4 separate regions of the Homo sapiens genome follow, and regions 2, 3 and 4 are each reported to be linked to region 1. Evidence: microRNA targets listed by miRTarBase, many of them from high-throughput screens and not tested one by one. Region 1 holds a microRNA gene; each other region holds the end of a gene's coding sequence.
What was found. The annotated mature microRNA hsa-miR-6076 reads AGCAUGACAGAGGAGAGGUGG and lies in region 1 at 4,665-4,685, shown strand. An mRNA with a match to its seed (bases 2 to 7 or 8) in the 3' UTR can be bound and repressed. Matches are read on the target gene's strand: a 7mer-m8 pairs with bases 2 to 8, a 7mer-A1 pairs with bases 2 to 7 and ends in A, and an 8mer does both.

Region 2: miRTarBase lists FNIP2 as a target of hsa-miR-6076. Seed matches in the 3' UTR shown: 7mer-A1 at 1,954-1,960 and 7mer-A1 at 3,910-3,916.
Region 3: miRTarBase lists GK5 as a target of hsa-miR-6076. Seed matches in the 3' UTR shown: 7mer-m8 at 3,703-3,709.
Region 4: miRTarBase lists RFT1 as a target of hsa-miR-6076. Seed matches in the 3' UTR shown: 7mer-A1 at 5,385-5,391, 7mer-A1 at 4,558-4,564, 7mer-m8 at 4,346-4,352 and 7mer-A1 at 2,494-2,500.

Annotation. Positions count from the first base shown.
Region 1 is chr14:49,961,735-49,968,855 of GRCh38, forward strand. It overlaps MIR6076 (microRNA 6076), which reads left to right and starts at 4,665; the gene lies at 4,665-4,777. It overlaps LOC100506446 (a long non-coding RNA gene), which reads right to left and starts at 1,298. Exons shown (of 6, transcript XR_007064156.1): 1 at 1-1,298. RefSeq lists enhancers at 1-93, 144-233 and a silencer at 3,462-3,531.
Region 2 is chr4:158,903,736-158,910,856 of GRCh38, forward strand. FNIP2 (folliculin interacting protein 2) reads left to right here. Exons shown (of 17, transcript NM_020840.3): 17 at 731-4,315. The coding sequence ends at 809. All of the region lies in intron 4 of SPMIP2 (sperm microtubule inner protein 2), which reads right to left. It also overlaps the pseudogene LOC124900178. Among named protein-coding and RNA genes, the nearest start is that of SPMIP2, 130 kb to the right of the region's middle.
Region 3 is chr3:142,159,279-142,166,399 of GRCh38, forward strand. GK5 (glycerol kinase 5) reads right to left here. Exons shown (of 16, transcript NM_001039547.3): 16 at 1-6,492. The coding sequence ends at 6,344. Among named protein-coding and RNA genes, the nearest start is that of TFDP2, 13 kb to the left of the region's middle. RefSeq lists an enhancer at 5,011-5,746.
Region 4 is chr3:53,086,062-53,093,182 of GRCh38, forward strand. It overlaps RFT1 (RFT1 glycolipid translocator homolog), which reads right to left. Exons shown (of 13, transcript NM_052859.4): 12 at 6,308-6,557; 13 at 2,422-6,009. The coding sequence ends at 5,842. Among named protein-coding and RNA genes, the nearest start is that of RFT1, 41 kb to the right of the region's middle.

The sequences.
Region 1 (7,121 bases):
CCCAGGACCTGCCTTGACTTTTCTCTTGCTGAGCTCTGTTCTACCACACACTTGCCTCCCCAGATAGCTAATTATAAGCTTCTATTTTAGTGCCTGCTTACAACAAAAGCTGTGTCAAAAGCAGCGCATACCCATATAGAAATTTAAAAGGGTACAATTCCTGAATGGTGATGAAGCAGTACTCTGCGATGTGCTTCATCATCCAAGCGATGGTTCGGGGAAATGGAAATAGATCTGGTCAGATCGGTGCAGGCCAAGCGGGTGCCTAACATGTGTTTACCGACAACGACCTAGTACACGTTTATTAGGAACATTTTCTATTTACATAAAGAGGCAGAGACAGCTCCAGTGTTCATCAGGATCAGCTTGGGCTACTGCAGCCTTGCACATCAGTTCACAGCTTTGCAGGCCCAGAAGCGTTTTCACTAGCCCTTCTCAATCTTGAGAAATAATGCTTCTGATGTCACAGTAGTGTAGGCTATTTGAGCCCTAGGTTTACGTATAGTAGTTTTAGGTTTTGGATTTTTAGTCACAGGCCTTCTTGCTAATGCGATCGTCTCTTTTAGGCCTTTGGCATCTGAGCCAGTTCTGATTTGCTGGGATGCTATTATTGCCTCTTCTTATCCATTTCAGGAGTAAGGGGTAGAAGGGAGGAAAAAAATAGAAATAGGAACAGCATGAATGTTGATCGACATCTTGCATTTTGAAGAGGAAACTCATCATCTCCTCCAAATGGTCATCTACTCAACGCCTGGAGCTCTAAAGAAATGCCCATCCTCTTAATATAAAACAAACACAAACTATGTGTTCAGAGCTTCCATGTGCATTTGTGTTTACAGACGGAAATACCTGTGAGACTAAAAATCTTCAAGCCTTATTGCAGATCCCTGGTTTCTGTGGGATTATGTAAAACCTGTATTTCTGAAACCCCGCCTCCCGTCTTCCTTCCATCTTAAAGCAGGGTTGAACCTTTTATTAAACTGACAGCCAGGAAATGTTTTACCTGCTTGACTTGTTCTTACTATTTTATACAGGTTTCAGTCAAATGTTTCTACACCCTGCTGGGCGTGGGAGGCCGTGACTCACCAAGAGAGAGGATATTCGGTTTGCATATCCAGGGTGTTGCAGGATGATAGAGGACTTCACAATTCAGGCTTGGTGCCATTTTGTCCCTTCCCTCGTTCTCTCTTGGATATTTACTTGGCTACTTGCTCCCATGGAGAACCAGTCAGCTGAGTATTCAAATATTAAATTAATTCCTCTTTCTACACAAGTGGCCAAGCAAGTTTTTACTAGAAACGTAGACTGGTGCCTGAGGAAGACTGGGGGTAGGGAGAAGAGAGGATGAGTTTATTTATTTAGTTATTTTTAATTTTTTTTTTTTAATAGAAATGGGGTCTTGCTGTGTTGCTCAGGCTGCTTTCAAACTCCTGGCTTCGAGGAATCCTTCTGCCTTGGTCTCCCAAAGTGTTGGGATTACAGGGATGAGCCACCATGCCCAGCTAGAGACTGAGTTTAAAGGGCAAAGGAAACTGTGGAAAGTAGTTTCTCTAAATATAAGTTTTGTGATGCTTTTCCATTGTCCAAGATCTTTGTGCCTTTGTGTATGAATAGGCCAAGAAAATGTTTTAGAATAACTTTGAATTAATCAATTTGTGTCAAGAAACCTCCTTTTTCCTGCTGCAGCAGGGTCTGCTTGGCCTATGAAAGCTCAAGGAGGGGTCTTTTATGACTCAGAGATATTTCCTTAATTTAAAAAAAAAGTTGGGAGGCCGAGGCAGGCAGATCATGAGGTCAAGAGATCGACTGATACCATCCTGGCCAATATGGTGAAACCCCGTCTCTACGAAAAAGACAAGAATTAGCTGGGTGTGGTGGTGGGCGCCTGTAGTCCCAGCTACTTGGGAGGCTGAGGCAGAAGAATCACTTGAACCTGGGAGGCAGAGGTTGCAGTGAGCTGAGATTGCGCCACTGCACTCCAGCCTGGCGACAGAGCGAGACTCCATCTCAAAAAAAAAAAAAAAAAAAAAAAAAAAGAGGGACAGAGGCCTTTGACTCCTGGCCACTCTTGTGAATCACATTTTGCACACAACACCTCCTCTCTTCATCCTTTTTCAGACTAAGGACTTGCCCAGAACTCTGGTGGTTACAGACCAAGCACTATGGTTGGAGGAGCTAGCCCAACAGAGGCAGCTGCGATCAGGGGAAGGGTGGAAGCCGCACACCAGAGCACCCTTGCTGCTCCAGGGCTGTCAACGATCTTCTCATACTCAGAGACTCGCTCGCCCCTGTGTCCTTTCATTCCTTCCTGCAGGCACTTCTGGAGCGGGTAGCGTGGTGAGATTTCTCACACAAAATTTGCTACAAAGCTACAGTAGACCACGTAGTGTGGTAGTAACATAAGAACAGACGTATAGATCAATGGAATAAAATAGAGAGCCGGGAAACAAACCCTTGTCTTCAATAGTGCTGGGAAAACTGGATATCCACTTACAAAAGAATGAAGCTGGACCCTTACCTTATACCATGTGCAAAAATTAACTCAAGATAGATCAAGGACCTAAACTAAATCTTCATAATCTTTGATTTGGCAAGATTTCTTGGATGTGACACTAAAAGCACAGGTAGCCAAAGAAAAAAATAGACAAATTTGGCTTCATCAAAATAAAAAACTTCAGTGTATCAAAGGTCACTGTGAAGGGAATGAAAAGATGGCCTACAGAATGGGAGAAAATACCTGCAAATCACACATCTGATAAGGGACTACTATCCAGAATATGTTAAAAGCCCCTACAACTCAACAACAACAAACCAAACAACCTAATGTTAAAATAGGCAAAGTAATTCAATAGACAGTTCTCCAAAGAAGATACACAGATGGCCAATAGGCACAGGAAAAGATGTTTAAAATCATTAATCATTAGGGAAATACAAATCAAAATCACAATGAGATACCACTTCACATCTATGAGGATGGCTGGTAATAAAAACAAAAACAGAAAACAACAAATGTCGGTGAGGATGTGGCTAACTTGGGACACTCGCATATTGCTGGAGGGAGTGTAAAATGGTGCGGCCACTGTGGAAAACAGCCTGATTGTTCCTTGGTGGTAATACAGAATTTCCATATGATCCAGCATATTCCACTCCTAGGTATATACTCAAAGTAATAGAAAATAGGAACTCAAACAGATGCGTGTACAACAACCTTCATAGCAGCACCGTTCATAATAGCCAAAAGGTAGAAACAACAGAACCGTCCACCAGCAGATGAACAGATAAACAAAATGTGGCAAATGCATGCAATGGAGAAGGATTCAGCCACAAAAAGGAGTGGGATTCTGATACCTGCTATGACACGGATGAGCACCAAAGACATTATGCTAAGTGAAATAACCCAGACACAAAAGGAAAAATATTGTGTGATTCTACTTCTTTGAGTGACCTAGAATAGGCAAATTCACAGAGACAGAAAGTAGAATAGAGGTTTGGCAGGAGCTGGGGGAAGGGGAAATGCGGAGTGATTGCTCAACAGGTACAGAGTTTCTGTTTGGGATGATGAAAAGTTACATACAGCATTGTAAATGTCCTTATTGCCACTGAATTGTACACTTAAAATGGTTAAAGTGGTAAATTTTATATTATGTATATTTCACCATAGTAAAAAAAAGTTTTAAATACACATTCCAGGGCCCCACCCTTAGAAAGCCTCAGAGGCGGCCGGGCGAGGTGGCTCACGCCTGTAATCCCGGCACTTTGGGAGGCCGAGGCAGGTGGATCACCTGAGGTCAGGAGTTCAAGACCAGCCTGGCCAACATGGTGAAACCCCTTCTCTACAGAGATACAAAAATTAGCCTGGCATGATGGTGGGTGCCTGTAATCCCAGCTACTCTGGAGGCTGAGGCAGAAGAATCACCTGAACCTGGGTGGCAGAGGTTGCAGTGAGCCGAGATAGTGCCATTGCGCTCCAGCCCGAGTGACAGAGCAAAACTCCGTCTCAAGAAATCCTCAGAAGGTGATACAGTAAATATGGATGGGGTGGGAATCTGGAATCTGTATTATTATTATTATTATTTTTAATGCCTTCCTATCTTTCTCAGGCATAGTCAGGTTTGGAAACTTATGATTTAGTCTCTGCCAGTTCTTTCCAAGGGGCTGGTGCGTCTGTAAGGAAGTGTTCACCAGTCTACGTGAAATACATGTGTATTTCTCATGCATCTGAGTGTATTAAATTTGAAGTCCTGTTTTAAAATCTGAGATTGTCATGATTACATTGTTTTGGGGTTAAAGTGTCCAATCATCTCCCACCATAAAATGATGGTGACAATAATTCAGGTTGTTTTTTAAGTGTCTGTGCTTGGCAAAATAGAAGTGAGCAGTCCTATGTTAGTCTCTCAAAAGGTTTTCAAAATTTTAATGGTTTGTTAAATTCCAAAGATTGGGAACCATTCCTCCAGACACCATCCCTTTGAAAATACTGAAATAGAAACTGCTTCTGCTGTTTATTTTATTTGTGCCAGAAAGAAAAAAAAAATGGAAAGGACCTATACATTTTTCTGTGGTTCATAGGACCTGGAGCAACAAAGGGCAGCATTGAAACTGACAGCATTGACATGTAATTTGTCCTGCTGCCTGTTGGAACGTTCTTTTTCAGATGCTGGAGGAGCATGACAGAGGAGAGGTGGAGGTAGGCGAGAGTAATATAATTTCTCCAGGAGAACATCTGAGAGGGGAAGTTGCTTTCCTGCCCTGGCCCTTTCACCCTCCTGAGTTTGGGGGCTGTGGTGGGGCAGGGATTGACCAACAGCCATTCCTAGGGGATGGATGCCTTTGCATTCCAGAGGGCAGCTGGCTGAAGGGAGTGCTGAGTCTGTGGGAGCCATAGCCCGCCCCACCCTTTAGGCAGATTAGTTAATTATTGAAAAGTGCCTCAGAAGCACAAAGGTCTGGAGAGACTCCATGAGCTATTGCTCAGGCCCGTGTGGGAGCTGGCATTTCTGAGGAGACACTGAGACTCTTCTAGGAGGCTGTGGAACAAGAAATAGTTCCTTCCCATTGTGGTGCAGTCCTTTCAGGTTTGGTGTAGAGAGACAGTTCCAGAGAATTCTTATACAGTGCATATAACTTCTCAAGAGAGAAGTTAAATTTATTTGTCTTAGGATTTGTGAAGTATTTAGATAAATGAACCACATCAGATATTTTCCGTTGTTTTAATTTTTTGTGTGTGTGGTTTTAATGTTTTAAGGACATTCAGGTCTTTTTTTTTTTTTTTTTTTAAACGGAGTCTTCCTCTGTCACCCAGGCTGGAGTGCAGTGGCACAATCTCAGCTCACTGCAACCTCTGCCTTCTGGATTCAAGCAATTCTCCTGCTTCAGCTTTCAGCTTCCCGAGTAGCTGGGACTACAGGTGCGCGCCACCACGCTGAGCTAATTTTTGTGTTTTTAGTAGAGACGCGGTTTCACCATGTTGGCCAGGATGGACTTGATCTCGTTATCTGCTCACCTCGGCCTCCCAAAGTGCTGGGATTACAGGTGTAAGCCACCACACCCGGCCCATTCAGGTCATTTATGCATAAACGATCACATGACATGTTCTGTTCTCTGACTTACTTTTTTCTTTTACTTAACAACATTCCCTGTAGCTCTTTCTGTGTTAGTGCATATAGGCATCCCCCATTTTAACTGTTGCATTCCTTCTAGATGTATCATAGTTTCTTTACCCACTATTTTAGCAAAGGATCACATAGGTGGTTTTCCATTTTTCACCATTACAAACAATGCTGCAACAAATGTTCTTATACACAAATGGGTGTGTGTATGTATGAGTGTTTCTGAAGGATATTATTTCTAGAAGTGGAATTTCTGGATCAAAGGGCATGCACATTTAAAATTTTTGTAAATAATATTGAGTTTCTCCCCCAAAATTCTGTTCTGATTTTTATAGCCACCATTATACTCATCAGCGTTGGACATAATCATTTTGTTAAAACTGCCAGCGTCATGTGCAGAAAAAACAGTGTCATTTTAAATTGCATTTCCTGGATTTACCAGTTAGATTGTTCATTTTATCATATGCCTATTGACCATTTCAATTTTTGGAACTTTTAGAAATAAAAATACAGAAAAGGTGTATAGGCTGGTTGCAGTGGCCTACTGACCATTTCAATTTTTGGAACTTTTAAAAATAAAAATAGAGAAAAGGTGTATAGGCTGGTTGCAGTGGCCTACTGACCATTTCAATTTTGGGAACTTTTAAAAATAAAAATACAGAAAAGGTGTATAGGCCGGGTGCAGTGGCTCACGCCTGTAGTCCCAGCACTTTGGGAGGCCAAGGCGGGTGGATTGCCTGAGGTCAGGAGTTTGAGAACAGTCTGGCCAACAGGGCGAAACCCTGTCTCTACTGAAAATACAAAAATTAGCTGGGCATGGTGGCAGGTGCCTGTAATCCCGACTGCTCGGGAAGCAGAGGCAGGAGAAACGCTGGAACCCGGGAGGCGGAGGTTGCAGTGAGCTGAGATCTCGCCACTGCACTCCAGTCTCGGCGACAGAGCGAGACTCCATCTCAAAAAAAAAAAAAAAAAAAGAAAAGAAAAAGGAAAGGTGTATACATTAAAGGTGTACTGATCAATGCATTAAGACAAAGTGAACTCTTCCTTGTAATCATGTCCCAAGTCAATAAATAAAATATTATAAGACCTTCTCCCCAAAAGAAGACTCTCCCCTGAAAAAGATCGACCTCCTCCAAAGTAATTCCTACCCCAACATCTAAGTGCTGTAGATTAGTCGTTCCTGTTTCCTACTGTCATATGAACAGACTCATACAAACATGCACTCTTCTGCGTCTAGCTTCCTTCATTCGCATTACGTTTATGAGTCTTTCACGTACTCGTGTGTAGCTGTAGTATGCTCATTTACATTGCTTATTGTATTGCATTATGTGAATATATCACAATTTATTGATTGATGGACATCTGGGTTACATCTGTTGCCAACTTTCAGTTATTAATGAATAATGTTGCTAAGAGCATTATCGTGCATGCTCTTTAGTATAGCTGTGCATCATCTCTGTTGGGTATATATCTAGGAACAAGATTCTGGGGTCATCAGCATTGTTCTGTTCA
Region 2 (7,121 bases), not on the chromosome of region 1:
CTGTTTTATTTTTACTTTGAGGAATTCAAGGGTAAGGATTAGGACATAGTCCACAAACTGAAACAGTTCAATTTTTTTTTTTCATGACACCTGGCATCATTTTTAGCCAGTGCCCATACTGTATCCACCTCTGCTGTAAGAGAGGCAGCCAAAGCTGTGTCCATTTGAAACCATGATGTCTCTTAACCCAGTACCTTTTAGTGTCACTTTGCTCTCAGAATCTTGTGGCTTAAATGCTCAGTGAGGATCCCAGTATAAACTTTGAACAAATTCCCAATGTTTTTTAAGAAATTGCTACCATCATCGTTTTTCTAAGACCAATTTGAACTTAGGTGAAAAATCAGTATGCATTTAGAAGTGTTGACTGGAAGAATGAGTTTATAATGGAGAATACCTTAAAGTATGATACAATGAAGTTATATAGGGAATACAGGAAAGTTAGAAAGTCTGGTGACCCCTGCCAAGGGAAAAAGAGCTTTATGTCCACACACAGGCACAACACACTTCCTGTATTTCTCTCCCTTTGCCTCCCTGGTCAGTGTCCACTGGAATATTTTATTAAAAGAGTAAGTTTATTATCCTTCCATCTGTTTTGCTTTTTCATTAGTTTTAAATGATAATCTATCAAACTTAGTACCTAGAAATAATACTTTCTCATAAAAAGAAATAATACTTTCTCATAAAACCATGCTCTTTTAAAGTAATATTCTTTTCTTTTCTCAATATTCAGGATTGAATCCAACGACCTGCCTCTGTTGACTGCTATTGCCAGTACTCATTCTCCTTATGTGGCTCAAATACTCTTATAAGCTAAAGCTCAGGACAGTTCTTCCTTGGAAGAAAAAAATCAAATTCTCAACTGAAGGAGAAAGGAATAAGCTCTCTGTGATGTCAAAAGCATGAGAAGAGCAAACAGAAACAGTCATTCCACCTTTTTGTTTTGTGTTTTTGCTGTCAAGCTGATGCTTCATTGAAGACTTAGGTTTACTTGACATAATAGCATTTGTGATTGTCGTGAACACTTTAGGCCATTTGTTACCCATGAATCAACAAAGAAACTGACCTTTTTGGTAGGAGGAAACATAAGCACTAAACACTAAGCTGTTGCAACAGATTGCCTTGTGCTGTTTGGGCAGAATAAAGACAAGTGACTTGAGCGGGGTGGTCAGCAGTGTACATAATATTCCAGTAGGAAACTGCTTCCAAGTTTAAGCATGAGCTCCCCAAACTGGAGAAAACATATTTTGCTATTCTGAGACAACAATCAGAATACAGACTTTGGATTCCAGGTCACAGTTTGCTTTTTAGACAAGGTAAAGCAAAGAAAGCCACATTGTGCCATCTTCAGCTCCAGTGGCTTTAGCAGTGACTGTTTGACATAAAACATGTAAGAATTGCTTGTTGGGAAGAGTGCTTTAGGGACCCACTGTTTTCATTTCTTCTTGGAGTTTACCTTGTTTCAGATGCAGCCATGGGTAGGTCAGAGATGGATTGTTGGTGCAATAAACCCAAGAATCAATGTAGCCTCTTAATCCCATCAAGATGTAGTTTGTAGCAGCAAAGTGTACAGTCTGAAACCGTATGTTTTATCCTTATATTTTAGAGCTTTCAGCAGCCTTTTTAAGAGAGGCCACTTACCAAAGTTATTTCTATAAGCTCAAGAGTGTTTCGGTTGGTAAGTTCTTCCAGCTGAAGCCACTTTTTCCTTATAGTTAATACAAATGACTATTTTTACTTTAAAAGGCACAGCTGTCCTGGTGGGAAATGAAACCTGCAGCAGTTCAGGATGACTAATGAAAGCAATTAGCTTGAACATTTAGAAAAAATTCATATATGATCTAAATTTTTATATTATCATTTCTGTGCCTTCTAATTCCTGCATCCTTTTCAAAACATCTTTCCAGACATTAACTTACACATTGTATAAAACCGACCAAAATGATTTCCTAAAGTTCATGCAAAAAAAAAAAAAAAACAACCTAATTTTCTGTTAATATAAAAGAAACTTCAGTTTACTGACCGTGAAACAGACTATGTACTGACATCCAGGGTAAAGTAAAAGACTTTTAAATATTGGTCATTAAAGGACAGGAGCTAAGCTAGCAAAGCAAAACATCTTTAGCACTTTGCAGATCTCAAGCAGTTAACCAGGCTCTGATTCCCTTCCACTGTTTTATGAATTAATTCCAGTTCTTTTCATGTATCTTTGAACCTAAGATTATGAAGTAATTTCCCTATTAGGGACTAGAATGACTTCAGTTTTTTCATTTGATAAAAATCAGAACTGCTACCTTTCCCTTTTTTAATGATGCAAAATGTAGATGAGTGCATTAAGTTTTGTAAGATCTTTATCATTTTATGTCATTCATTGAAAATTGAAATGTTCATTCTTTTTAATGTTTTCCTATTTCCTTTTGCCTAGCATTTGACTTTGGTGTTTTAAGTTCTGTAGTTCCATGACATCATTGTTTGCTGTTGTGTTACAGAGAGAGAAGGAACCTCACCTGTGGCTCAGCTCACCCCACATCCGTTTCTCATTACGTGTAAATAAACTGTCAGAGCTGATGTTACAGCTTTTACAGTTTAAAGCATTCCCCTCGTCTCTAGTTCCTTTTTTCTTGTTTACATGTTTTGGGCACTTTCCCTCATTCACCACCTTCCAGGGTTTCATAGAAAATAACTTGTTACAAAATCAGTTCAATTCTAATGTGGACATAGTGGCATGTTCATAATTAGACCCATATAGGGGACACTGAGCTTTAAATCGTTGATTCTAAACTCTATACATTAAAAAAATTCAGCCCAGGCCCCTCAAAGCCTGAGAAAATTTAATTTGCTCTTAATTTAATGTTCCAAAACTCACTCTTGGAAAAATGCCTGTTGGAAAACTACAGGTGGGTCACATGTGGGGGCTGTCTCCGTGACACTCAGGATTCCAGTCAGAACCTAATCCTCATATCTATTGCCTACAAAAATAGACCAAGAATGTTGCTGCTCTTTTATAATCCTTTAAATATTTAACATTCAAGTTTTCTTTGTCTTAAATTCAGCCTCTTCCTAAAAGCAAAAAAGAAAAAAAAAACCTCACAGAATTGTGTTGAGATCCACCGCTCACACGCCGTACACCACCCAGTGGCTTCATTCTGGCTTAGCCGCAGAGGCAAGAAAGGGACCCCACTTGCTCCCATGCCCACCTCAAGAAAAAACATAAAACAATTTTTTTTAAAAAAGAAAAGAAATCTACCTCAGTTGACAGGATTCCACCTTTAGGGTTTCTTCAACTTTTAAGTCTTACCTGTTGAGTGTAACTTTTGTAGCATCTTGCTTTTCCAAGCAAGCTAGTGAGGCATGACAGAGCAGAAGTCTGTAAATGTCCCTGTGATGGACCTCTTTCTAGCATGTTGCAGTTTTATTTTTAATAAATTGGTAAGTGAAATGAATGTAAAGGTAATTGTGTACGTTTTAGACATGACAATGAAAATTTAAAATGTAGCTTCCATACTTGTGCATAATTCCAAAGTATTTTATTTTTTATCAATCAGTGTTAAATAGCTTTTTGTACAGGCTTCAATCCATTTTTCGAAGTGTGCTGTTTTTTAATGAAAGTAACTATAATCTTTTCACATCCCATGGAACTGCCGTTTACACATTGCAACTTTTTAAACTTAACCATATTTTTCAAAATTAACGTTTTTGGAGGGAGAAAAATCCCCGCTTGCTAAATGATACTAAACCGTTGTTTGGGCTCTTATAATTAGGTCCTGAGATTTTATAAAAATTTAGTCTGTAGCTTTTTAGGTTCTTCACTAGAGTTGGTTGTACATAAAAATAATAAAGAATATAAAGTATCCCAAAATTCTTTTAAAGTCTGGATTTTTCCGCTAATATGTACTTTAGAGAATATTTTGTTCATGCATACTTCCACGTTAAATTGAAAATGTCTTCAGCTTCTCTTGGTAAATGTGAACCATTTGTTTTTTATTGTGCTTGGGGGAGAGGGTATTTTAATATAATTTTTGCCTAAATCAAGAAGTCCCCTCTGAATGTTAATTTTTAAATGTCAAAATATGATGAACGATATATCTTGAAAGTGAGATTGCAATATGCTTAAACTTAAGTGGTATTTCAAAAACGAGAAAATTCTGGAATTTGTCATTTGAAGCTCCATAAGAGAAATTGATAGGACTTCGTTTTTGATCAGTCTGAATAGATACCAATGTCATTGTGTGGGAATTTTTTTTAACTTGTTTATGTATTATTTTGATCCATTTTTCTGTGGCATTTGGTGCAATAAAACTTTTGAATTTATCTTGAACATTTTCCTGGTGCTGCATGCGATTTGTTATATTTAATAAAATGTAGAGGTCTCATTTCTAATAATTCGTGCTGAAAACAAGCTGATTATTTATCTCAGTGGTTTTTAACCGGGGTGTTTTGGAAATGCAGGGACATTTTTGGTTAGCATAATGCCAGGTTAGGGTTACTGGCACAGAGAGGCTGGGGGCTCAGATGATAGGCGAGAGGTCCTGCACCATGTGAGACAGCCCCATGGGATGAGGACTTGTCCCACCCACCTCCTGCGTAACCCTTAAATGTCCTGCTGGACATTTATATGGCTAAAAAAGCCTGTTTATAATTAAGCAGATAATTCTGCTATACATAAAAAACACAATGTATTTTTACATGATTTTTGTATATAATGCATTCTCCAGGAATGCAATTGTTGTATAAATTGAGGGAAGATTTTTACTTTGTAAGATTTAGAATTTTAGCAAGAAGTGGTCACTTGGTCTTTACCAAGAATTGATATACTTTTGGAAAACTGCGTTTCCAATGGTAACATAGTTTGGTAGCTATGGTACCCATGGAATTTGAGTCACCAATACAGGACATCTCTGTCAGTCTTCATTTGTAGCCCCTGCATTCATGAAGACTCTGTATATAGATGCCTACTTCATTATATTTTTTGAGATGGGGTTTTGCTCTTATTGCCCAAGCTGGAGTGCAATGGTGCAATCTCGGCTCACTGCAACCTCCGCCTCCTGGGTTCAAGTGATTCTCCTGCCTCAGCCTCCCAAGTAGCTGGGGTTACAGGCATGCGCCACCACAACTGGCCAATTTTTTGTATTTTTAGTAGAAACGAGGTTTCACCATGTTAGCCAGGCTAGTCTTGAACTCCTGACCTCAGGAGATCTGCCCACCTCAGCCTCCCAAAGTGCTGGGATTACAGGCGTGAGCCACTGTGCCTGGCCAACTTCATTATATTTTCTAATCTACTGCCCCAATATTTATGTATTAAAGTAGTATTATAAATTACTTTTAAATTTCTTTTAAATTACAGTATAATAGGGCATTATATTGGTATGATATAAATTGAGTATATTTGTAAATTTTATTTTAGGTTAATAAAGGGGGCATTACAAAATATTTGCTCTGAAAAGGGATGATGTCCACAGATATATTTGTTCTCAGGAAAAAATATGCCACTGAGAGCAACTGTTGGTACCAACATAATGCCATACTGAGTTATGTTATCTTAAAGACTGGGGGGAAAGTTACAGTAGATATTTCAAAATCCTTTCTGATAAATGAAAATTTCAAGTGTTTTTCCCTGAAGCTTTTTTTTTTTCCTTTTCGTGCATGTTCAGCTCTCCAAGGATGGCTTCCCTGCTGTGTACTCGGGTGAAACAGCTTTAAAATCATGCCATTGATAAAAGGAGTTAAACGCACGTGCACACAAGAGTGCTTTTTGGTTCCCTAGTGCCTGGACCGTTCTGTCAGACGCTTTCTGTATGTTACCTCATTTAATCCTCACAATGGATGAGGGGTACTGTGATGGTTTTTTTTTTTTTTTTTAAGAGACAGGGTCTCACTTTGTCACCAGGATGGAGTACAGTGGCATGATCATAGCTCGCAGTAACCTCAAACTTCTGGCCTCAAGTATCCTCCTGCCTCAGCCTCTCAAGTACCAGGGACTACAGGCATGCACCAACACACCCAGCTAATTTTTTTAAAAAAAATTTGGGGCTGGACGCAATGGCTCACGCCTGTAATCCCAACACTTTGGGAGGCTGAGGCGGGCAGATCACGAGGTCAGGAGATCGAGACCATCCTGGCTAACACGGTGAAACCCTGCCTCTACTAAAAATACAAAACATTAGCCGGCCGTGGTGGCACGCGCCTGTAGTCCCAGCTACTCAGGAGGCTGAGGCAGGAAAATTGTTTGAACCTGGGAGGCAGAGGTTGCAGTGAGCTGAGATTGTGCCACTGCACTCCAGCCTGAGCAACAGTGAGACTCCATCTCAAAAAAAAACAAAAAAAAATTTGTAGAGACAGGGTCTCACTCTGTTGCCCAGGCTGGTCTTGAACTCTGGGCCTTACATGACCCTCCTGCCTCAGCTTCCCAAACCGTTGGGATTACAGGCATGAGCCACCAGGTCTGGCCTGTGATGGTTAATGTTATGTGTCATCTTGGCTAGGCGATAGTAATCAGATATTTAGTCAAACACTAATCTGGATGATGCTGTGCAGGTATTTTTTTTTTCCTTTTTTTTTGAGATGGAGTTTTGCTCTTGTTGCCCAGGCTGGAGTGCAATGGCACGTTCTTGGCTCACTGCAACCTCTGCCTCCCGGGTTCAGGCGATTCTCCTGCCTCAGCCTTCCTGAGTAGTTGGGATTACAGGCATGCACCACCACGCCAGCTAATTCTGTATTTTTAGTAGAGACGGGGTTTCCCCATGTTGGTCAGGCTGGTCTTGAACTCCCGACCTCAGATGATCTGCCCGCCTCAGCCTCCCAAAGTGCGGGGATTACAGGCATGAGCCACCACTCCCAGCCCAGTGCTGTGCAGGTATTTCTTAGGTGAGATTAATATTTAAGTCAGTGGACCCTGAATAAAGCTATTTATCCTCCATAATGTGGGTGGGCCTCATTCAACCTGTTGAAAGTCTTAAGAGAAAGACTGAAGATCCCCCAGGGAGAGAGAATTCTGCCTGAAAACTGCCTTCAGGCTGGAGCTGCAACATCAGTTTCTCCCAGGGTCTCCATCCTGTTGGCTCACCCTGCTGCGTTTGGATTTACCAACTTCCACAATCACAGGAGCCAACTCCTAAAAATAAACA
Region 3 (7,121 bases), not on the chromosome of region 1:
ATGGTATAGCCAGTCTGGAAAACAGTTTGGCTGTTTCTTATAAAGATAAGATTCATTTAAATGGGAGTCTCTATATCATTTGTTTCCTAAACATCACGGGTATCTATCTAAACACAGCCATTTTATAACAGATCAAATTTATAGTAAAGTGGGGAAAGACAGTAGAAATAGAATAACAGAGAATTTCAGAAATATCTGATTTTGCAAGCACCTGTTTCTGTCCTTCCCACTCCAAGATCATTCCTGCATTCCTCTAGGAACAAGGGTCCCATGGGAATATGATACAGCCAATGACTTAGGTGCCAATAGATGCTGGTGCCAAAATATTTATGGCTATGAGGCTTCAAAACTTAAAAAAAAAAAAAAGATTCCTTTTACTTGGAAAGGGGATTTAAAAAGAAAAAACCACCAACACGATTTTGAATCATCTATTTAACTTTTTTAGATTACCCATTTTGACTGGTTCGAACCAGAAGACCTGGCTTTGGGTTTACAATAAGACGATTCTGGGACCAAGTAGGTTGTAAAGGCCCAAGGTATGTTTGGGGCTTTCTCTCTCTCTCTCTCTCTCTCTCTTTTTTTTTTTTGAGACAGAGTCTCGCTCTCTCACCCAGGCTGGAATGCAGTGGCCCAATCTCGGCTCACTGCAACCTCCACGTCCCGGGTTCAAGCAATTCTCCTGTCTCAGCCTCCCAAGTCGCTGGGACCACAGGCACATGCCATCAGGACTGGCTAATTTTTGTATTTTTAGTAGAGATGGGGTTTCACCATATTGATCAGGCTGGTCTTGAACTCCTGACCTCAGGTGATCCACCCGCCTTGGCCTCCCAAAGTGCTGGGATTACAGGCGTGAGCCACTACACCTGGCCTTTTTCTCTCTTTTTTTAAATTGAGATGGGTGGGGTCTCACTATGTTGCCTAGGCTGGTCTCGAACTCCTGAGCTCAAGCGATCCTCCCGCCTTGGCCTCACAAATTGCTGGGATTACAGGTGTGAACCACCACGCTTATCCTGGGGCTTTTAATTCTTACTGAAAATCATAGTCTAAATTTCCCAAAGGGATTCAGAATCCTTTGGGGTACATTCAAGTCTTCTAGGCCATCTCTGGGATGACTCTAGAATAACTTAAAGTCAAAGAACTCCAGGGTATATCTACATCTCTCCTCAAATAATTACAAAATTCTTGCAAGATTCCTGGGCTGGACTGTTTTAAATTAAAGACTGGTCCCTTACAGGAGGGGCTATTTATGAAGTTCCTTCCCTATAGCACCAGAGTGTTTCGCACTCTTAAAATTCAATCTGTTAGTCATCTGCAGTCAAATATATAAAACCTGTGAAGAGAAAGGCTTCAATTAAAGCTTAAAAAGTTAATATATCTATGTGTATTTACAGACATGTGTCTCTACACAAATAGTTTTTCAAATATATAAACATATTAAGAATTTTATTTTATTTTATTAAGACAGGGCCTTGCCCTGTTGCCCAGGCTGGAGTGCAGTGGCACAATCATAGCTCATAGCACCCTCAAACTCCTGTGTTCAAGCGATTCTCCTGCTTCGGTTTCCTGAGTAGCTGGGACTACAGGGGCATACCACCACACCTGGCTAATTTAAAAAAAATTTTTTTGTAGAGACAAGGTCTCACTTTGCTGCCCAAGCTGTAACTGAACTCCTGGCTTCAAGTGATCCTCTGGCCTCAGCCTCCCAAAGTGCTGGGATTACAGGCATGAGCCACTGTACTTGGCCAAAAATTTTAAATAAACAACATGAGGATTCTAGCTCTCACTACAGAGTAGTTCTTCTTTTGTTTTTTTGTTTTTGTTTTTGTTTTTGTTTTTTTGAAATGGAGTTTAACTCTTGTTGCCCAGGCTGGAGTGCAATGGCGCGATCTCGGCTCAACCGCAACCTCTGCCTCAGGGGTTCAAGCGGTTCTCCTGCCTCAGCCTCCTGACTAGCTGGGATTACAGGCATGTGCCACAACGCACAGCTAATTTTTTTGTAGTTTTAATAGAGATGGGGTTTCTCCATGTTGGTCAGGCTGGTCTCAAGCTACTAACCTCAGGTAATCCGTCCTCCTTGGCCTCCCAAAGTGCTGGGAAGAGTATAGTTCTTCTTAATCCAACAAAAAAGTATTTTACTCACAACAAATATAAATTGCCCCCATCAACAAATGTATGTAATATCAAGGATAACGTGTACAAACAAAGTTGCACTAACAAAGTAAAAATTTATCCCACATACATGAAAGCACAGTGCTAAGTTCTGGGGAAGCAGACAGTTTCTGCTTTCAGGGAGCTTCCAGTCTGGTAGAGATTTACACAGAAGGCAGATTAAAGAGAATGATGATCTCCTTTGTTCAGAGATAAAAAGGAAGCAAAAAAGCAGGTCAAATCAAAGATGATCTGCAGAATACATTAACCCTACACTGAAATCATGGACCTACTCCAGTAATTAAGGCTGCAGAGGTGGGGCTGGGTGGATGAAAACATCAGAAGACAATTACAGCATGAGATATTGATTGATTGATTGATTGATTGATTGAGACAGGGTCTCACTTTGCCACCCAGGCTAGAGTACAGTGACACCAACTTGGCTCACTGCAGCCTCCACCTCCTGGAGCTCAAGTGATCTTCCCACCTCAGCCCCCTAATTAGCTGGGACTATATGTGTGTGTCACCACACCCAGCTAATTTGTGTATTTTTTGTAGAGATAGGGATTCGCCAGGTTGCCCAGGCTGGTCTCAAACTCCTGAGCTGAAGTGATCCGCCTGCCTTGGCCTCCCAAAGTGCTAGGATTACAGGTGTGAGCCACTGTGCCCAGCTGAGATTTATTTTTTCTTTATTAATCAGCAAAATAGATACCCTATTTATTTCAAGATACGATTAACTAATTTTTTTGCTAACAACCATTTCCTAAGGTAAAATGAGGCAGAAAGAAAAGGAGTATGACACTATATTCACTGAGTCTTCGATTTTCTTCTAACAGCCTGTATCAGTGGCTCTCAACTGGGGGCAATTTTGCCTCTCAGAATGGCAATGTTTGAAGACATTTTTGGCCATAACAACTAGGGGGATGGTACTTGTAGCTAGAGGGCAGAGGTCAGGGATATTGCTAAACATCCTATAAAGTACAGCATAGCATCCCAAAATAAAGATTTATCCAGTCCAAAATGTCAATGCTGAGATTAGGAAACCATGCCATGGTTGGATAAAAAAGATGAAAAAATCAGTATGTCTATAGTATAAAAGCAATTAGTAGCACTTTAAGATAGATTGAACAGGAACATTCTCTTCCTTTATCAGACAGTTGCAGACCTTCTAAAAATATCTGATAGATCTATAATGGGAAAATAAAACATGCTGAGAAGTAGCACAAATTTTTCTAAACTTCAAATATTAGCATACAAATGAAAAACAAACTTGGAAGACAGAAAGGACAAGCCAGGCATGGTGGCTCACGCCTGTAATCCTAGCACTTTGGGAGGCCGAGGTGGGTGGGTCACAAGGTCAGGAGTTTGAGACCAGCCTGGCCAACATGGTAAAACCCTGTCTCTACTAAAAATACAAAAATCAGCTGGGCGTAGTGACGTATACCTGAAATCCCAGCTACTTGGGAGGCTGAGGCAGGAGGACTGCTTGAGCCCAGGAGAGGGAGGTTGCAGTGAGCCGAGATCATGCCACTGCACTCCAGCCTGGGCAACAGAGCATGACAATGTCTCAAAAAAAAAAAAAAAAAAGAAAGGACAATTTTGTTGCTCAATTGATCTTATCAACTGTTTCTGCAACCACAAAAGCAAATGTGGTCATGTTTCTGATTTTAGTTAAGTCCAAAAATATTTATTAAAGTCTTATCACTAAAAATGGCCACAAATATTAAAAATAAAATATTAGTTTTTAGATTCACAGAAGAAAAAAATAGCCACTGACACTTGAGGAGATGCTCAATTCCGATGAGGGACATTCAAAGTTACTTTCCAACATTATCTGAAAAGTATTGATCCTTTTTTTTTTTTTTTGAGACGCAGTGTCGCTCTGTTGCCCAGGCTACAGTGCAGTGGCATGATCTTGGCTCACTGCAACTTCCACCCCCCAGATTCAAGCAATTCTCCTGCCTCAGCCTCCCGAGTAGCTGGGATTACAGGCTTGCACCACCACATCCAGCTAATTTTTGTATTTTTAGTGGAGACAGGGTTTCACCGTGTTTGACCAGGTTGGACTCCTGACCTCAAATGATCCGCCCACTTCAGCCTGCCAAAGTGCTGGGATTACAGGCATGAGCCACTGCACACAGCCCAAAGTATTTATCCTTTATTTTGTGGTTATATGTTGGGAAAGAAGAACGTGGAAAAGAAGTGAACTAACAAATTTTCAGGTATTAATATTACAATTCAGTACATTCTGACAAAAAGAATTATTTCCTATGAAATTACACCCATTGGCTGGGTGCAGTGGTTCACGGCTGCAATCCCAGCACTTTGGGAGGCCAAGGTGGGAGGATCACTTGAGGCCAGGAATTAAAGACTACCCTGGGCAACACAGCAAGACCCTGTCTCTACAAAAAAAGAAAAAGAAAAAAAAATTACACCCACTGAGAAACAGAATGTGTAACAGTAAAACAACAGAGCAGCTTCCATGTGATTTTGATAGGAAAGCTTTAATTGGTGACTAAGCTTTGTAAAAAGGATGTAAACAGGGGAAAGAATGAAAAGAATAAGATTTATCTACATAATGAAGTTTGACTTTTTACAGTAAATAAAATACCTATTTATTAATATTTCCAAATATTAATTAGATTTAATAATACTATATATTTGTTACAATGCCTTCATCAGAAAATTTAATAATTAAGAAGATACTTGAAGTTCATTCAAATGGCACTTGCAGAAATGCAACTTAATTTCTAGTTCTATCATATCTGTCTCCAAAATGGACATATATGACAGCAAAAACAAAATTCTCTATAAATCTCTCCATTAGTTACATTACTATGTAACTAAAATAGCTAGTTCTATAATAAAAGGATTTTATGTGCCAAATCCTGACCAAGAGAGAAATAAAGTCATTATTGCTGCAAATCCAAATGGAACCTAACCCAAATGTAGGGAGGGGCAAATAAAGTGAAAACATGTTGGAAGGTGGGGTCAACTGCCTTAGGACAATTCTACATCCAGCTTGACACTACTCACGACTTACTCCTCCTCACTGTTTCTTCCAAGAAAGTCTAAGCATGTGAAACTGTCCTTGTTGCTCCCTGTGGATCTCTGGCTGAGTGGCTAAAGGGCAATCCTGAGCATAGACACACTCTCCTCCCTTCTATCAGCTGTCCCCCACACATACTCACAGGGATGAGTAGACTGAACAAACATCAAAAAGACGCAGGAACAAATAAAATACCCCAATAAAGGCAATTCTTAAGTGGTCAATAAATTAGGGCACTTCTTCAAATTAAGCTCTGTCAATTAGGCACTTAATAAAAACAAAAGACATTTATACAAGCATCTAAATAACAAAGAAAGATAAAGAACAAGAGAAAGACAAGATTTATGTTAACTACCAGCATGTTATACTTCAGCCAGAAGTTTTTGAAAGAAACGTTATTTGAGAAGGAAAATAAGTAGTATTTTTCTGTTTCTTAAAAATCAATATTCTTTCTAGTTCATTAACTAAAATTAGTTTTTCAGTGTTTTCAACATAGAAAGAATGCTCAGATTTTGGTTGAACAAGGAAAAATTAAGGCAGTGTCTTTAAGACCAGTAAAGGAAAGCATTAACTATCTCATAAGCTTATCTGAGAGGGACATATTAAGCTCATATTTGGATATAATATTAGGAAATTATGGCTTTAAACATAAAATATTAATGTTTCAAAATTCCACATTTTCTCAGTTATTCTTTCTTTTTAGCTATATGTACTTCAAATAGCCCACTTAAAGAATTAAAGAAATACGTTTCACATAATTTTGGAACAATATGTGCATGGTACTTGACCCAGAACTATTAGCTTGGATGGTAAATCATTATGTTCCTATGTACCACTGACCCAGTATAAAAAGGAAGAGGACCCATAACTGTCAAAATGTGGTTGGAAATGACTAATGTCCTTTGGAATTTGCTACAAAATAGAAGATATAAAGTTTTGAGGTATTGCTGCCTTACCATGGTTTAGGGGAAAAAAATAAGAGTTTTTTGTTCCGTTTTGTTTTTTTAAAAGCAATGCTTCTTAAGTTATGAAGCTTATTTAAAATTTTCTCCTCTTAGTCATTGTCATATGGGTTATCCCTGAGCTTCATCTCATCTGCACGTCACATAAACCAGCTACCTATGGTTTTGATCATTTCATTTAGTGTTATGTCTTGTTATACCAATTCATGGAGCGTTTCACTGCTTTGGCCCAGTTTTCCAGACTCATTTCATATTCTTGACATTTCTTCTGTGGCTTGAAAACCACTTCACTTTGTCTCAGTTTCTTTAGTTCCTCCTTGTCAGTCCAAAACCCTATAGATAAAAAAATTATCCTCAAATTTTAAGGCAAATCATGAGTCCAATAAAGTTTATCCAAAAACCTATACGAGTTGCTGGTAGAAAGGTAAACAAAAACTATTTTTAAAACAATCCAAAATACTTTGTTACTTTTGAATTTTGTTAGATCGATCATTCCTGAAAATAATTATACCAGTATTTTCAAGTCTTTTGGTTTCTAACTTTCAGCTCAGTTTCTGTGTGGTGGGACACCACATCACTTCTAAAGCAGCTACCCTATGCCATCATTTAATTTCATAACTTGCTATTATTAAAACAATCCCAAGTGAAAAACAGTATATTTTCTGGCCAGGCACAGTGGTTCATGCCTGCAATCCCAGTGCTTTGGGAGACTGAGGAGGGGAGACCACTTGCTTAGGAATTCAAGGCTGCAGTGAGCTATGATTATATCACTGCACTCCAGCCTGAGTAACAGAGAAAGACCCTGTCTCTAAAAATAGAAAAACAGAAGAAAAAAAAAGAGAAAGAAATAGGATATTTTCTTTTTTATGCAATTACAATAAATGAAGACAAATTAAGATTTTTGTCTTACAGCTTAAGGTAAATGTCAACTTTCTGGAATATGCATAAAATTCAAAGTTGGA
Region 4 (7,121 bases), not on the chromosome of region 1:
CAAATTCTTCAAGTAAAACACCTTTTCTGCCACCTTGAAAGCTAGTTAGCAAATGAAATATTTACAACATTAAGGACCAATTCACTCAGGTAAGTAAATAATAGTGAAGCAAATAATTTTTCGTCTGCATCTGATTGTCTCAGAAGTCTCATTTCCAAATTAAATACACAAGTCTCAGTTACTTCCTGGACACTCATGGAATATTCAGTAAATAAATTTTAGAGTAGTGATCTTGTTCAGTTGCTTTTTTTTCTTTTTTACTTATTTTTTTGGAAACAGAGTCTCGCTCTGTCACCCAGGCTGGAGTGCAGTGGCGCGATCTTGGCTCACTGCAACCTCTGCCTCCCGGGTTCAAGTGACTCTCCTGCCTCAGCCTCCTGAGTAGCTGGAATTACAGGCATCTGCCACCATGCCCGGCTAATTTTTGCATTTTTAGTAGTGACGGGGTTTCACCATGTTGGCCAGACTGGTCTCAAACTCCTGACCTCAGGCGATCCACCTGCCTCGGCCTCCCAAAGTGCTGGGATTACAGGCGGGAGCCACCGCGCCCGGCTTTCAGTTGCTTTTTCTAGTCCATTGTGTTTCATTGTCTTTGAGAAATTTCTAGGGGACCCCTGATACTTGAGCCTTAGCTCATCTTCTTTCCAAATCTGGTCCTTTCTGACAGGCTCCACAGGCCTCCCGGCTTCCAGTGTGCCTTCCAGAACTCTTCCTTAGGGCCACTGAGAACCTTGTGCAAGCAGCTTCATGAGTCCGTGGGTCAGCTCCCAAAGGTGCTCAGGATCGAGCTGCTGGTGGAAGCTCTCCTCACTAGCAAGCCCCCTGCACACCCGTCTCACTTGCCATCGGTGCCTGGCCCCCATAAACTGCAGGAGTGTGTAAATATGTGAAGGAGGCCAGGCGCGGTGGCTCACGCCTGTAATCCCAGCACTTTGGGAGGCGGAGGCAGGCAGATCACTTGCGGTCAGGAGTTCCAGACCAGCCTGGCCAACATGGTGAAACCCCCTCCCTACTAAAAATACAAAAATTAGCCAGGTGTGGTGGTGCATGCCTGCAGTCCCAGCTACTGGGAGGCTGAGGCACGAGAATTGCTTGCACCTGGGAGGCAGAAGTTGCTGTGAGCCAAGATCGTGCCACTGCACTCCAGCCCGGGCAACAGAACGAGACTCTCTCAAAAAATAAATAAAATATGTGAAGGATATCCCCTGTTCGGATTCTCTCTCTTCTTTAGTCCCCACCCCGTTTTCAGCCATGGCTCTTCTAAGACTAGGCCAGGGATCATGCTGCCCCTGATTTCCCACTGTGAACTGAACTCCATCCATCCCAGAGGCCACACAGCAACACTCACAGCTCCCACCGTCCGGGCCTGCCCAGCCTCTCACCTGAGCCCCTCCTCCTCCAGGTTCTGGATGCTCCCAGCTCCTGCCTGTCTCTTCCTCAACATCAAAAGCTGCTCAGGAAATAATTTTTTTTTTTTTTGGAGTGGGGGGACAGGGTCTTGCTCTGTCATCCAGGTTGGAGCGCGAACATGCTCATTGCAGCCTTGAAATCCTGGGCTCAAGCAATCCTTTGCACCTCAGCCTCCCGTATAGGAACTACAGGTGCGTGCCACCACGCCCAGCTAGTTTTTAAATTTTTTTGTAGAGATGGGGTCTCCCTGTGTTGCCCAGGTTGGTCTCAAAATCCCGGGCTCAAGCAATCCTCCTGCTTCAGCCTCCGAAAGTGTTGAGATTATAGGCGCAAGCCACAACGCCTGGCCCGGCAAAGAATTCTTTTTTCTTTTTTCCTCTCACTAGAGAACAAAAAGGAAATAAATCTTGATGGGGTTATTTTACATCTTAGTGTGAATGAGTCACCGAGTTCTCTGCGGAATCTGAATTTCCAGTATCCTCTCTAATTCTGGAAATAACAGTCTTTGAACTAGGTGAAAGGAAATTCTGGAAATAACAGTCTTTGAACTAGGTGAAAGGAAATTCTATCACCTGATGGAGGAGGATATTAGAGTGAAGGGGCTGTCCTAGACCCCCTGAAATCACACACTTGCCCTGCTCTGTGCTGAAACTAGTCCTGACTTCTCAAGGAATGGCCGTTTAATAAACAAACAAAACAAGGACCAGGCCAGATGGAGAAGACAGGAGAGAAGTCCCGCAAACAACGGGAAATACAGCTTAAGGGGGGATGGGGAGAGGAGCAAAGGAGACACCACAGGCCTTTCAGTCCCAGACACAGGAGGTGCCAGGATACCATCCCTCTTCCAAAGTCAAGAAGCCCAGTCCCAGCTACAACATCAACAGAGAGAGAAACGTTCCAGCTGAGGAACACCAAAGGTTCACATCCTCAAGTTACTTACCTACCCTCCTTATGAAATTAAAGAATTTTTGTCCCTTTTGGAGGGAGAAGGGGTATGAAAGAAGAAAGGTCTTTTCAAAAGTGTGAAGAAAATATTTTATTTCTTATTAAACCAGGGGACTGATGTGAAACTAGCAACAGGAATGCATGATTAAGGAAAAAAAATGGCTGGTCTGGAATCCCAGCACTTTGGGAGGCTGAGGCAGGAGGATCACTTGAGCCCAGGAGTTCAAGGCAACAGTGAGATCCAGTCTCTACAAAAAAAAATTAGAAATTAGCTGGGTGAGGTAGCACACACCTGTGATCCCAGCTACTCAGGAGGCTGAGGTGGGAGGATTGCTTGAGCCCAGGAGTTTGAGGCTGCAATGAGCTATGATGACACCACTGCACTCCAGCCTGGGCGAGAGGAGAGAGTGAGACCTTGTCTCTGAAAAGAAAAGAATAGGCCAGGAGCGGTGGCTCACGCCTGTAATCCCAGCACTTTGGGAGGCTGAGGCGGGCGGATCACAAGGTCAGGAGTTCAAGACCAGCCTGGCCAATATGGTGAAACCCTGTCTCTACTAAAAATACAAAAATTAGCCGGGTGTGGTGGCAGGCGCCTGTAGCCCCAGCTACTCAGGAGGCTGAGGCAAGAGAATCGCTTGAACCCAGGAGGCAGAGCTCGCAGTGAGCCGAGATCGCGCTACTGCACTCCAGCCTGGGCGACAGAGTGAGACTCTGTCTCAATAAATAAATAAATAAAGACAGGAGGAAGGAGGGGCCCTGCTTGAATCAGGTTGGGAAGTGGCTGGGAACAGGGCAGAGTAGCGGTTCCAGAGCCAGAAGTTGCCATCAGGTAAGCATTAAACAGCACAGCAGCAGCTCCTCACTGAGAGACCCCAAGCCAAATCTGAAGTGACCAACAGTTACCTGTGGCCAGAGGAGCACAGGAAGTCAGCGATACTGTTCTTCTCACCAACGAATGCTCCTTCCTTTCATAAAGGTTGTGCCTCAGAGACTTGTTTCCATGGAGAAGTAGCCTCACTATAAGTGGTATTGAAAGCCAAAAGTATGATTTCTGCTCCCCAAATCCACTTGGGTAAAGTGAGGCAGGCTGGCCCACATGTATGCAAGCTCCCTGAGGCACAGCTGTGGCTCTAGGGGGTCCAGCAGGGGAAATGCCAGAGGCCTGGTCAGGTCCAGCTGAGCTTTAGGGAGGCACCAGAGGCAGAGAACCACAGAGGACCTGCTGCCAAAGTGCTGACAGCCCAGGCGGCAGGGCTAGTCCTGGGAAAACACGCAGCCACATGTACAACTCTCCCTAGATACAGGGAAGCAGGACACCGGAAGAAGCCCTGGGCTGCCTTTGCGGCTGGCTGTCTTTCAAGAGGAGCTGGCCCTGACAGCAGCACTGGGCGAACAGCAGGGGAGGGATGAGAGAGTGAGCACTGCCTTCAGACATAGAGCCTCTCTCAAGCTGAGAGAGCACAAGCCTGGGGAGTCCTGCTCCCAGAGACCCCGGAGTCACAAGGCTGCTTGTAGAGCAGCAGCTCTGTTCCTGGAGCAGAGAACAGGCACTGTGAGCATGAGCATGATGGTCCTGGGCCTGTCACGAAGGAAGACAATGGGGCATGCCAACCTTGGTGGCATCAAAGCCACGTGGGCTTGCCAGAAAAGCCAATCTCAGAGCCCTCCTCCTGGGAGACACAGACCCTGAAGGCCTGGAGTGGGTCCTGGGAAGCCATGTTCTGACTTGCAATCCAGGTGATTCCGAGGCAGGTAGAATGAGGATCATGCTTGAGTCTGGGGTCAGGTGGGCACGGGATAGGTGCAGGGTTCCGGGAGGGTGATCAGCAGCTGCAGAGAAGCAGCTCATGAGGACTGAAGGTCCCTTTCTGTGGATGCCAGGGACAGAGAAAGGACATGGGAGGGAAGGAGGACTGCCTTCCGTGTGTGCTCCACTTGACCCTATGGGACCATCCATTTTTCTGAGCTGGCCTGACCTTGCCCGATGAAGGCATGACTGAGGCCATGCTTTGGAGGTCCTCTAATTGCTCAGGACACCTTGCATTTAGCTGCTTTTCTCCCACTTAGTGCAAAGCATTCTCCCTCTGAGTAGATAAAAACCTGCCAGGTGACTGGGCCCCAGTCTTGGTGTACTGACAGGTCTTAATCCTTAGCCCCTGGGTACTGGCTCTGGGCAAGCAGATTTAAATACATGCATTTTAATGCATGATAGGAGTTGCCCTTACTGGCCCTCTCTCTAGGTGTAGACACAGAAGGTTTGGGGCACTGAGTGACAGGATTATTAACATCCAAGTTATAGTTTGTGCATATAGTTCTGAGGGGGGTTAATATCTAAAAGGAATTAATACATTAACAAAAAAATAAAAACACTTCACACTCCAGAACACTGCTCATGATTTCACCTGCAGTGTGCAGGCTGCAAGGTGCAGAACACCTGGGCTCACACTGTAGCCTGGAGTACCAGGCCCCCATGCCTGCCACTCTTGTCCTGGGGCTGGAATTTGGTTGTATTGATCAATGCTGGAATTAATGGGTCAACGGGAGGGACCTGACTCAGTAATACTAGCCATATAGAGTTTGCCTTGTCTTATTCTGAGGATAAAAAAGTACATCTGTTAAACCTTATCTGTCACCAGTGCAATTCCCATGTGAGAAGTTACAGAAAGCTGCAAAGCAGCATTCCCCTCAGGGACAAAGTGGCTCAACTGGATCACAGTTTTCTTCAAAGTCCGCCTCTTGCAGGTGGCCAGGCCAGGAGTCTCCAGCCAGCTTTCACCCACCCTTCAATCAACAAATCCTGAGAGCCCACTCTGGGTCAAGTATGTGCTGACCTGGGGCGGCGGGGAACAGTGTGATCACGACAGGCAAGATTCTCCCGAACTCACTCTGGGAAATGTGATCTGAAAACCTTCCTGGTTTCATTTCTTGGATTTCTCACTGAGTAGCATTTTTCCTTCTCTAAAAACTCAGACCACAGTTTTGACACAAAGAAAGCCACAACTTCAGGGCCACACTCTGTTTCCATGTGGTGCATGAGAGAGAGAGGTTTCTCTCTCTCTTTTACAGAAGAAGTTCAATATTCCTGTGAAGGGTAAAATCACTGCATCTCTTTTTCTGGGCCAGATAATTATTAACAGTTAACAATTAAGATATAGTTTGTTGGAGCATGTAGCTCCAAAGGCCAATCATACGCAAAAGGAATGAGTATATTAGTAAAAGAGAAAATGCTGATTACTATAAAATGATAAAAAACTATTATTTTTAAAGGGCTTTTGGTCTTCACTTAAAAATGAAACTCCCCCCCCGCATTTCAGACTTCGAATGGTCACAGGTGTCTCATGCAGTGGCACTCTCTGGTGCCTCATCTCTGGGGTTGCTGTCACTCCGCTGCAGAGCCCTCAGTGGGGCTCTTACACAGAATGTGTTCCACCCACAGAACTACCCATAGCTGGTCCAGGTGCCTCGGGTGTCCAGGCTTCCCTGAAGTCATGTCATTTTGTCAGTGCGTCTGGGCACACCTAACTGAGTCCTGAGGAAATGGATCAGCTTGGTCTCTGTGAGGAATGCTGTCCCGAGAGTTGCTCCCAGACAGAAGGCCCCCACAGCAATGTGTGCCAGTCTGGCTGGCCAGCCCTGCTCACAGCAGAGGAATACCTGGGGAAAGAAACCATTGTCAGTGCCTGTTCCTCAGTCTATACCTCCTTCCTCTGGGACCAGCCAGGGAAGACAGCTGTGGTTCCAGCTTCTAAGTCAGATAAAAGGCATAACAGCCATACTGCAGGTCCATTGTTTCCCCATTGGCAACATTCTCTTGTCACATTATCAGAAGATGCTGCCCTAGAGGCCTGGGGAGGGGACAGGAGGAGGCAAAAACCTGGGAAGAGGAGGCCTAGCGGGAGAGACAGCGGGGCAGCTGCAGAAGCATGTGGCATGATGGCTCAGGGAGTCTCACCTCCGAAACAGCAGTAACCCCACCACTGAGGGCAAATGTCCCGAGCAGGACTGGCGATAGGTGCAGGCCAGCCAGGGGCCTGTGGGGGCTCCTTCGGTAGTAGCGGTGGATGAAGCAAAGGCTCTGCGTGATCCGAATGCCCATGTTAAAGCAGTTGGCCAAGATGAAGCCCACGCTGCCACACCAACGGGTCAAGAGATAGGATAACACCAGGAATGAGGAGGACAGGGCCAGCATCACAAAATTGTACCTGGGGAGGAGACAGGAAAAGGAGGGCAGTGGTGACCTTGCCCTGGACAAGGCTGCTCCCAAAACAGCGGCCATGAACATCAACTCACAGAAAGAACCTGAGCTCCTGGAATCCAGGTTTTCATAACATCGAATGCTACCTGGAGACCATGGGAATGTCCCTGTCCCCTTACCCTGAGCAGAAAGGTAAGAAACAACTCAGGAGATGTATGTTTTTTGAAGACAATAATTAGTTAGTTAAGCGATACTTTGTGATCAAAACATAAAAACCCTGTTCAGCCCAAGTCCTCAATGTGAGATACAAGAATGTGACCTGGGTAATTAGACATTGGATGCTAACTCTGTGACAGGCCCTGTGAGGAGTGCTGGGGACACACTGGAGAATGAACACACATGGGCCTTGCCCTGCAGAGCTTGGATTTATTTCACAGACAAGGGAAGCAGCACAGAGAAGTTGAGTAATTTGTCTCAAGAGTGAGGTAACACTCAGCCGGACTTCTGACCCCTAAGCTTCAGTACCTCACACCACTGCCCTTGGGAAATGCAGCACCCAGTAACCTTGGGC